Linked DNA regions of Homo sapiens. The protein of the gene in region 2 interacts with the protein of the main gene of each other region in a pairwise test. Each region holds a gene or a part of one and is shown on either strand. Other genes may lie near its edges.

Region 1 (3,654 bases), on a different chromosome or scaffold from region 2:
CAAATCTCTGTCATTAGATTATGAAGTCAATGGGGGAAAGGATTCATCTTTATATAGCTAAAGTCTGACGGAGGAATAAAATACCATGTGATTAAAGAAGGCAGGCAGATCACATAAATGAATGACACTGGATATTGAAAAACCTCAGTAAGGGGTGGAGACAGTGGTAGAGTTCCCATGTCATTATTACAAGGGGCAGCCCCACACATCTTTAGTAGATTTTTACCCTTTTGTTGGAAAGGTGGGCCCAGTTAACCCAATTTTCTGATTTTCCAAGAGAAACAAGAAATCAAGATTAAGTTATAAAACCTTCTGATTTTTAAACATTTGCAATGAAAAAATTTGGATTGTAAAAGTAGACCATCTGTTGTTGAAGAGCTACTCTAATGAAATTCTACAATGTATTACAGTAAATATACAAATATTAATATGTTGCAGCTTCTAGTGACCTAATTTAATATAGGGAAAAGGAGAGACCACAGAGAAGCATAACTGGGTAGTACATATTATACTAATTTTCTCAAAACTATCTTTGCATAATTGGGCTTCTTGTAGGAATTCAAAGATGTCAGACATTCTGAACATGGCCTTGAGCATTGGCAGATGATATTTCAGATTTAAGAAGGATCCATATGCTTTGGCAATCAGACTTAGATGGCAAGGTTAACGTTCTGTTTAAAATGGATAATATACAGTGTCATCACATAGAAACCACCACGTTTAAGTGAGGGATGATTTGCTTATTTTTATTTGACTACATAGGTCTGCTTCTTTTTTTTCCATTTCTCATGACCAACAGTGACCTTTAATCAGAGTGATAACTACCACTCTGCCCAAAGTTAAATAAATGAGAAAATCATCTTGCTATTGAGACATTGGCACACAACACTTATTTAATGCATTTATAATGTCCTGCAAAATTACATTCTTCTTATATTAGGAAAGCAAATCTTATAAACATTATGACATCTCTTACCTCAAAATCAACATCTCCACAACAGCTGCACACAACACATGGACCACTTATTTTTAGTACATCCTCTCTTTTCTCATTTTGAATTGTAAACTTTGGTAGACATGGGTGCCAAGTCTGAATAACATAACCTATTGGTACACCAGGAGGAGCTTGGATTTCTATCTACAAAGGCAAAATAATATATGTAAATGTAATAATCATAATGCCTAGGTTCGATGAAAGGTTCAATGACAGGGCAGAAATTCTTGCTGAACTATTTTACAAAGTGCCCTGGTAATTGATCACAGACCTCCTGAAGGCAGCAGGGACAACAACAGCTGCTACATCTTAGTGGTCTCTCCAGAGTTATGACTTCTTGACCCATATTATCAATAATCCTCAAGGTAAAAGGTCTAGATGGCCCACAGCAATTTCGGGTACAGCAATCAGTATCTTCCGCTGCAAAGTAAACCCTCTGTCCAAAGCTGTTCTTAATTTCATATTTGTTATTAGTTTCAAAACCTGTTAAAACTAAAAACATAAAAGACGAAATCATAATCACCTCTATGTTAAAAATATTGAATTTATCCAGATATTATAATATCTAGCTATGCCAGTTTTTGATGATACCCCAAGTGGCATAAGGAGGAGAAGAAATGATGTTTAGAGATGATCCAGACAGAGAAAAATGGCAAAAAAAAGGAGAGATTACCAATGTATAGAGAAATTAAGTCCTTATGCCGTGGGGAAAAGAGAGATCAGATTGTTACCATGTCTGTGTAGAAAGAAGTAGACATAAGAGACTCCATTTTGTTCTGTACTAAGAAAAATTTTTCTGCCTTGAGATGCTGTTAATCTGTAACCCTACCCCCCACCCTGTGCTCCCTGAAACATGTGCTGTGTCAATTTAGGGTTAAATGGATTAAGGGCTGTGCAGGATGTGCTTTGTTAAACAAATGCTTGAAGGCAGCATGCTTGTTAAGAGTCATCACCACTCCCTAATCTCAAGTACCCAGGGACACAAAACACTGTGGAAGGCCACAGGGACCTCTGCCTAGGAAAGCCAGGTATTGTCCAAGGTTTCTCCCCATGTGATAGTCTGAAATATGGCCTCCTGGGAAGGGAAAGACCTGACCGTCCACCAGTCCGACACCCGTAAAGGGTCTGCACTGAGGGGGATTAGTAAAAGAGGAAGGAACGCGTCTTTGCAGTTGAGATAAGAGGAAGGTATCTGTCTCCTGCTCGTCCCTGGGCAATGGAACGTCTAGGTGTAAAGCCCAATTGTATATTCCATCTACTGAGATAGGGGAAAACTGCCTTAGGGCTGGAGGTGGGACGTGCTGGCAGCAATACTGCTCTTTAAGGCATTGAGATGTTTATGTATATGCACATCAAAAGCACAGCACCTTTTTCTTTACCTTTTTATGATGCAGAGACATTTGTTCACGTGTTTACATGCTGACCTTCTCCCCACTATTATCCTATTGTCCTGCCACATCCCCCTCTCCGGGAAACGCCCGATAATGATCAATAAATACTAAGGGAACTCAGAGGCCGGTGCTGGCGCGGGTCCTCCGTATGCTGAATGCCAGTCCCCTGGGCCCATTTTTCTTTCTCTATACTTTGTCTCTGTGTCTTTTCTTTTCCAAGTCTCTCGTTCCGCCTAACAAGAAACACCCACAAGTGTGGAGGGGCAACCCATCCCTTCATTATGTGAGACACTGGAAACAAGTTATATTTTCCTAATTCCATAAATGTCTGTCAGAAGAGAGACTTTTCTGCTGAGAGTTGGGGCAATGCTGTGGGTGGGCACGGTGGTGCTAGGTGTATAGATAAAATGTCCACTAATGCAGGATAGTTTATGTGTAATGTGGAGGGGAATATAAGAGGATTGCTGTTTATGTGCTATGAAATTTTATATTAAATCAATTGGTTTGAGACTGTCTTATAAACCTTACTTATGTCTTATTTTTTTGCAATGCTTTTGAAAGAAGGCAATGTACACGCATAAAAACCGAGGGAGTAAAAATGAAAGATGAATTAGAATGTCACATTGGACCCAGGGCATCCTTATTCAACTCAACAGTAGTTGTTCAGAAGTGGGAGGTGGGTATTAGACAAACGTGTTCGGCAACCAAGGCTTCAACTCACAGAATATCTAGACCGTGGGAATCCTAAGTGAACTCTGCACCTTTGCTGGGCTAATCTATCTTCATGAGGGAAACAGATGGCTGCAAAATGCTGACACTCACATACTTTGTATCAAGGGCTTTCCATATCTAACCATACATTGGAAACCTCTCCATATTTAAAGCCAGAAAGGAGCAATAACTGTCCCATTTGTACATAGTCCTCAGTAACTGGGGTCATAGATGTCAGAAGCCTGGCTAAAATAATGAGTGATTAAAATAAATATATGGAGGAAAAGTCACTCTATAATGCCTATGTGGAAAGACTCTGAGTCGGATAAAGACGGCCTTCACAAGTCTTACCACCATGAACTCCTTTAAGTGTCCTTGGTGGGACACAGACAGACCCTGTACTCTGCATTTATAGGAACAACGTCTGATTTCAACATCTGAAATAGTCAAATGTTTGATGAGAAAAAAGTTAAGCTGATTTTGAGAGGACATTCATTATCTAATTAATTGTTACATTAAGTAGCTTAATCTCAAAAATCTCCAGCTTATTTGTAAAAC
Region 2 (3,654 bases):
CTTGTCTCAAAAAAAAAAAAAAAAAAAAAACAGAATTACTATATTTTGTAAATGGAAATACCACTATTAAAAACAGAATGCTATAAATAGAATGTCTTTTGTTCCAAAGCTGATATACTAGAGCGATGCAAAAATAATATAAAAGCAATACATTTTGTGGCAAAGTTATCTCAGGGTCAACGCTGCAGTCTGAAGTGCCACTGGCAAGTTTTCTCAGGGCAAACAGGAAAAGGGTTACAGTCCTCATTTCACGCCTCTGTTTTTTTTGTTTGTTTATTTGTTTTTTGAGATGGAGTCTTGCTCTTGTGACCCAGGCTGGACTAGAGTGGCATGATGTCAGCTGACTGCAATCTCCCGGGTTCAAGCAATTCTCGTGCCTCAGCCTCCCAAGTAGCTGGGATTACAGGCACCACCCCACCACGCCCAACTAATTTTTGTGTATTTAGTAGAGATGGGGTTTGACCATGTTGGCCAGGCTGGTCTTGAACTCCTGACCTCAGGTGATCCGCCTGCCTGGGAATCCCAAAGTGCTGGGATTACAGGCATGAGCCACCGCGCCCAGCCCATGCCTCTATTTTTGTAAATAAAATTTTACTGGCACACAGCCATGCTGATTTATTTACATATTGTCTGTGGCTGCTTTTGTGCAACAAGAGCAGAACTGAGTAGCTAGAACGAAGACCACACGGCCTGAATAGTCTAAACTATTTGCTATCTAGTCCTTTACAGAAAATGTGGCTGGGCACACTGGCTCGTGCCTATAATCCCAGCACTCTGGGAGGCCGAGGCAGGCAGATCGCTTGAGCCCAGGAGTTCAAGGCCAGCCTGCGCAACATGGCAAAACCCCGTATCTATGAAAAAATACAAAAAATAGCTGGCATGGTGATGTGCACCTGTAGAGCCAGCAACATGGGAGAATGTGGTTGCAGTAAGCCGTGATAGTGCCACTGCACTCCAGCCTGGGTGACAGAGAGAGACCCTGTCTCAAAACATGAAAAGAAAAAGAAAATGTGTGCTGACCCCTGTCCTAGAATCTGTCCATGTAAATAATAGTGCAGTAGGAATTTAGTATCTTTTCACCCTGGCCCCAAGTAAAGTCTTGAGATCTTATGGAATCAGAGAAGACAAGCCACCTAGCCTCAGGCGTTCTATGAGGATGGGCTGAGGCTGGAGCCTGGGTCTGAACTCTCAGTCCACTATTTTGGGGAAGGTGGGGGATGGGGTATAGAAGAAGGAGGTACTGGGGACAAGCCAAAGCACTTGGGAAGGCGGTTTAAAGGCCCAGATTTGCAAAGGGTTGCCCCAGGCTATATAGCACTGGAAAGCAGCAAAACCTCCACGGAAAGACGTGTGCCACCCAAAGCAGGCACGCTGGGGCTCTGTCCTCTGGCTAGCTTGAAAACATCCAAATCAGGCCAGGCGCGGTGGCTCATGCCTGTAATCCCAGTACTTTGGGAGGACGAGGCAGGTGGATCGCCTGAGGTCAGGAGTTCAAGACAACCCTGACGAACATGGTAAAACCCCATCTCTACTAAAAATATAAAAAATTAGCCAGGCGTGGTGGCAGGTGCCTGTAATCCCAGCTACTCAGGAGGCTGAGGCAGGAGAATAGCTTGAACCTGGGAGGCAGAGGTTGCAGCGAGCCAAGATCATGCCATTGCACTCCAGCCTGGGCAACAAGAGCAAAACTCCCTCTCAAAAAAAAAAAAAAAAGAAAAGAAAACATCCAAATTAAAACTGTTACTCCTAATCCTAACACCAGAAGGCAGGCATGTGGAACAATACCAGGTTTGTAGAGCAACGGCCCTGGCCCCAGCCCCTCCGCAGAACATGGCCCTCCTTACCCTGTAGATTTGGTAAAGTCTCCCCAGATGTCAGCAGTGGCAGGATTGGGCTGTGGCCAGGGTACAGGAGCACCTCCTATTGATGTTCCCGAGTCCGACCCGTAGGAAGAGAAGAGGGGACAGAGAAGTCAGAGACCTTTCTGGTTGTTTCAATGACCAAATCATGAGACTCAGTGATCAGTCTCATGACACCAGGTAGCTGGGAAAGCCACACCAGACATGCTTTTGGGCAACCAAACACCCTGAGTTGCCACACTTCCAGCATCTTCTCACCAGCCCTTGTGCGCTCTGGAGAAAACGCAGAAAGCCACATACAAGGTGGAACGAGGGGTGCCCGCGGGATGGGTGGTTAGTCTCACGTCATCTAACATGCATACCTGAAGCTGACTTTGTTATCAACCATTTATGTTGAAATCTATTTAAAATTTACTATAACCCGTCTTAGCTTCTTGAACGGAGAATGTCCACCAAAACCGCAAGATCATCTTCATATCAAGCCTGCACTACCATGTCTGGATGAACTGGCTGAGAACACTACGTGCCAGCCACGTGCCAAGTCCCAGGCCCCAAACTGGTTAGGGGTCAGGAAGAGCATTCCAAAGAGCTCACACAGAAGCTCAATCCTATCTCTCCACCAAGGTAGGCGACGCCATGGGGCTGCAATGCCTGCTTTTGTGCTTTTCAGGCACCTCCCCCAGTGCTGCCAACTGCCCTTCTGAAGGGCCTGTGTTTGCCACCCTCCACCTTGGCACTAAGTTGCTATTTCTAATCTGCTCTGGGCCAGGAGAACAGATAAAACTAGGGCCCTCAATGGTTTAGAGTTTTACAGTTCACCAAGTGCTCAAGGCACATTATCTTCTGTGAACCTCACCCCAGCCCCTAGGGAAAGACAGATTGGGATGAGCCACGTGACTGTGCAGGTCATTTCAGTTTCCATTCTCTTACCTCTAAAATGCTGAAAATAACAGGAACTACTCCATAGGACTGGTGTGAAGATTAAATATCCACAGAATGCTTAGAACAGGTCCAGCATATAGTGGCAATAACGATATTAATAAAATGAGATCTAACATTCAGTGAGCACTTAGAATGTTCCAAAAATTGTTCTAAGTGCTATACATAAATCAGCTTATTTGATCCTCACAAGAAACTTATATTTTAAGTATCATTACTTCCCCTATCCTACAGATGAGAAAAATGAGGCATGGAGAAGTGATTTTCTAAAGATCACAAAACTGGGCTGGGCACAGTGGCTCAGCCTGTAATCCCAGCACTTTGGGTGGCTGAAGCAGGTGGATCACCTGAGGTCAGGAGTTCGAGACCAGCCTGGCCAACGTGGTGAAACCTCTGTCTCTACTAAAATTACAAAAATTAGCCAGGTATGGTGGTGCATGCCTGTAATGCCAGCTACTTGGGAGGCTGAGGCAGGAGAATTGCTTGAACCCAGGAAGCGGAGGTTGCAGTAAGCTGAGATCATGCCACTGCACTCCAGCCTGGGCAACAGAGTGAGACTCCTTCTTAAAAATAAATAAGTAGGCGAGGTGCGGTGGCTCATGCCTGTAATCCCAGCACTTTGGGAGGTCAAGGCGGGAGGATCACCTGAGGTCAGGAGTTCAAGACCAGCCTGACCAACATGGAGAAACCCCGTCTCCACTAAAAATACAAAATTAGCCACGTGAGGTGGCGCATGCCTGTAATCCCAGCTACTTGGGAGGCTGAGGCAGGAGAGTCGCTTGAACCCAGGAAGCAGAGGTTGTGGTAAGCCGAGATTGCGCCATCACACTCCAGCCTGGGCAACAAGAGCAAAAAA
Region 3 (3,654 bases), on a different chromosome or scaffold from region 2:
CCTGTTTCTACTAAAAATACAAAAATTAGCCGGGCATGGTGGTGCATGTCTGTAATCCCAGCTACTCTGGAGGCTGAGGCAGGAGAATCACTTGAACCCAGGAGGCAGAGGTTGCAGTGAGCTGAGATTGCGCCATTTGCACTCCAGCCTGGGCGACAAGTCAAGACTCCATTTCCCCACCACCCCCCAAAAAACAAATAAAACAAAATCATTGCCATAGAAGTAAAAAAAAAAAAAATAGTGAATTTTATATAACTTTAGGTGAAGCACAATTTTCTAAGTGTGCCACTGAGGAAAAACACTGACTGAGAAAAGCTGATACAAAAATCTAAACTTCTGTGCATCAAGAAAGCAGAAGAAATCTAAAGGACAACAAACTAGGAAAATAAATGCTAACTAAAAGAAGGGTTAACATCTCAATTACAAAAGACTTTAAAACAACAATGTGGAAAAGATAACATATTGGAAAAAGGTGCAGAGGACATGAGTGAGCAATTCCCAAATGGCTAATAAGCATAACTGTTATGAAAAAATGTTCACTTCAACTAGAGTTCAAAGATTTAGTTGCAAGGATACTCCTTATACCACCATTTGGAAAAAGAGTAGAAACAACTTTAAGGTCCTATAATAAGGGATAAAGTTACAAATTCAGTAAGTTATCAAGTAATCACGTTATGTCTATAAACCAGAAACTAAAGATGACATAAATTTTTCTTTATAATGTGGATCAATGTCCATGATATTACTAGTAAGAAAAAAAAAAGTAGAGGATAAAACAAAGTAAATAAATAGCATTTGTGGAATGATTTCATTTTTATAAAAAAATACATCTTTGTATAGAACACTATATAAACAATGATATAAAATGATGTCTACCAGATTATGTCCACTGCATATCTGAGAGAGTGAAACAGAAGATGGGGAAAGCGGGGTACCCCATTTTTTGTTTAACTTGTTCTATAATTATATATAGTAAACAAATATGGTTTTCCTAATAGGAAAAATATGTTTTTTGTCTTTAAGAAATGACACACAAACCAATATTTTATTCTAATATATAAAAATCAGAAATAGTAAACAGAAAATAACCAGAAGACCAGGAAGTGAAGAACTCCTGGTCTTAACCTAGTGCCTCAACCTCTCTCCTTTTTAAAACTGAAAAGGACCAGGAGTTTGTTTACTCCTGAAAGAAATAGGCAAAAGTTATTGAACAAAAAAATAGCACCATAGGATTGCTTTTTCAGTGCTATTTATTTGCTCAACAGCTTGTTGCTTCCCAAAGCTATACAGAAAGTTCATTACAATTCTTATGCTGCTGATTCCTGTCCCATGGATGAGTTAGTGCAAACAGGCAATCATTGCCTCTCCTGGTCCAATTAACTGTTTGGCTTGGCAACTCTGTCAAACTGAAAACCTTCATGGCTGAAACAGTTACAGGAAAAGTTCTAAGGTAAATCTGGGTAATCTGAAATGACAGCACTAGATAAGACAGGATTCCTGAAGGGTGACCTTAAGTTTCCTGGGAAAGTTCATTCCTCACATCCTGTCATACTCCCATCAAAGCACGCTTAGTCAAAGGAAGAAGTGAAAGCCATCAGAAGTCTTTTCCAGAAGATTATGGAGAACCTTTCCATTAGTCACAATAGATGACTAACAGCCTTGAGGAATCTAGATGCTTTGAGAACACTTTCTAGTAATTCCAGGGCTAGAAAGTCTCTGAACTTCAGAATAAGATATAATTTTTGTATTACTGTTTACAGCTTTGTCAGAGAGGTAGGTCATAAGACAATGGCAGTCTTGTGGAAAAGATGGCTATGTACACTAGTGAAGAGAACAAAACCACCTTACTCTTATGCTACCAAAATCTCTCTGAAAATTATCTACATTAATACTAAGTAGACGGCTAGTAAGATATGTTAACGTAAAAAGAAAAGAAAAACAAGTTGTGACGTGTGGTGACAGTGGTAATAAAAACAATGTTAACATATCAAGATCCAACAAAAAGACTTTAACATTTCTCCAATGAAGAGAAACATTAAATATCTGAATCAAGTGAGCTAGCAGAACCAGGAATAGAACCCAGGACTAGCTAACTTCTTGCTGTTAACAGCCTTTCTATTAAATTATTTATCAACAGAAACTACATGAAGCAGCACTAAACTGAAAAAAAACAAGGAAGGCCAATTAGGAACAGGTATTTCATAGAAGATTCTCTGACACACATCTGCCTCCTTTTGTTCCGGTAAAGTACTGGTCATACTGTACAAATTGTTTTCGTATTCCTGAGAAATCATATGGTCCAATCCTCTGACTCTAGGCAGAACTGCATATAATCAAGTAGCAAGAACAAACATGGGGCTCTGAACCCATAAAAACAGTGAACAGAAGCCACTGTTAATTTCAACAAATTTCTGAATGAGGACAAACAAATGGAGGACTGCTGACTGATGAAGCAGGGCAATGTAAATTACAGCCCATAATACTTACCGGAAGGCTGCAGCCAAGCTAGAAACCAATCTGCCCTCTAAGACCAGATAGGCTCTTCAAGAGGTCTTCCATGTAAAGATAAACCCCCTTCCCTAAAGCAGAAACCTGATAGTCGACAGCCTTGCCTATGTATACAGAAGTCCTAATCAACTTTTCTGTTACCTCTTTCTTAAACAGAAACGAGCTGCACTTTACTGTATGCATGGTATACATCTCAATTAAAAAATTATATGCATAGATATGCAATCATCACCAAAAAATATCCGATAATTAAATTCAAAGTGCAGAAACAAAAAAACGAATCATTCATATCCTCAGAGATTCAAGAAGCTATTGCAACCACAAAAAGAGCAATGCAAGGAAAAATATACCAATAACAAGAAATAGGGAGGCTGTATGGAATGATGTGCAGAAGCCAGAAAAGCAATCAGTCAGAGTAGAAAAAACAAGAAGACAGAGGACTGCAAAAGAGAAGGGTCTAAGACAAAAGAAAGTTTACAGATTTGATATTATGCTTAAGGAACAGGAATAATATAGGGGCATGATAAAGACACACATGCAAGAAAAAAAGAGGCAATTAAAGAAACTCCAGGGCCAGGTGTGGTAACTCACACCTATAATCTCAACACTTTGGGAGGCTGAGGCAGGCGGATCACTTGAGGCTAGGAGTTCAAGACCAGCCCAGCCAACATGGCGAACCTCGTCTCTACTAAAAATACAAAAATTAGCTAGGTGTGGTAGCGTATGCCTGTAATCCCAGCTACTCAGGAGGCTGAGGCATAAGAGTCGCTTGAGCCCGGGAGGCAGAGGTTGCAGTGAGCCGAGATCATACCACTGCACTCCAGCCTGGGCAACAGAGACTCTGTCTCAAAAATCAAAACAAAACAAAAAACCTCCAGAAAAAAAAAAGATGCTATAAGAAAGAAAATGTAATCATTTGCATTACATTGGCCCTAAATATTTACACAGTCGTAATATGCATAAATTTTGCAAGCCAACAGTTGATAGAATAAGAAACAAAGGCATATTATTTCAATCTACCATGATAATGGATATAGGAACAAAAACCTTCATTATGTAACTACACTGGAAAACAGGAGACGGAAGTGGGAATGGTGGGTGTATGAAGTAAACTTCTTATAGCAGATAGTTAACAGAAAAAGTCTA

What was found.
Region 1: the proteins of NECAP2 (region 2) and PLSCR1 interact in a two-hybrid assay, tested with the Homo sapiens proteins (one large-scale study listed by BioGRID and IntAct).
Region 3: the proteins of NECAP2 (region 2) and AP2B1 interact in binary tests that used the Homo sapiens proteins (3 or more experiments, as listed by UniProt).

The regions. Positions count from the first base shown.
Region 1 is NC_000003.12:146,520,568-146,524,221, forward strand, and holds part of PLSCR1 (phospholipid scramblase 1), read right to left. Parts: intron 1,487-3,654; coding exon 1,266-1,486; intron 1,139-1,265; coding exon 977-1,138; intron 1-976. UniProt on the Homo sapiens protein: Catalyzes calcium-induced ATP-independent rapid bidirectional and non-specific movement of phospholipids (lipid scrambling or lipid flip-flop) between the inner and outer leaflet of the plasma membrane resulting in collapse of the phospholipid asymmetry which leads to phosphatidylserine externalization on the cell surface.
Region 2 is NC_000001.11:16,454,084-16,457,737, reverse strand, and holds part of NECAP2 (adaptin ear-binding coat-associated protein 2), read right to left. Parts: intron 1,921-3,654; coding exon 1,845-1,920; intron 1-1,844. UniProt on the Homo sapiens protein: Involved in endocytosis.
Region 3 is NC_000017.11:35,628,673-35,632,326, reverse strand, and holds part of AP2B1 (AP-2 complex subunit beta), read right to left. Parts: intron 1-3,654. UniProt on the Homo sapiens protein: Component of the adaptor protein complex 2 (AP-2). Adaptor protein complexes function in protein transport via transport vesicles in different membrane traffic pathways.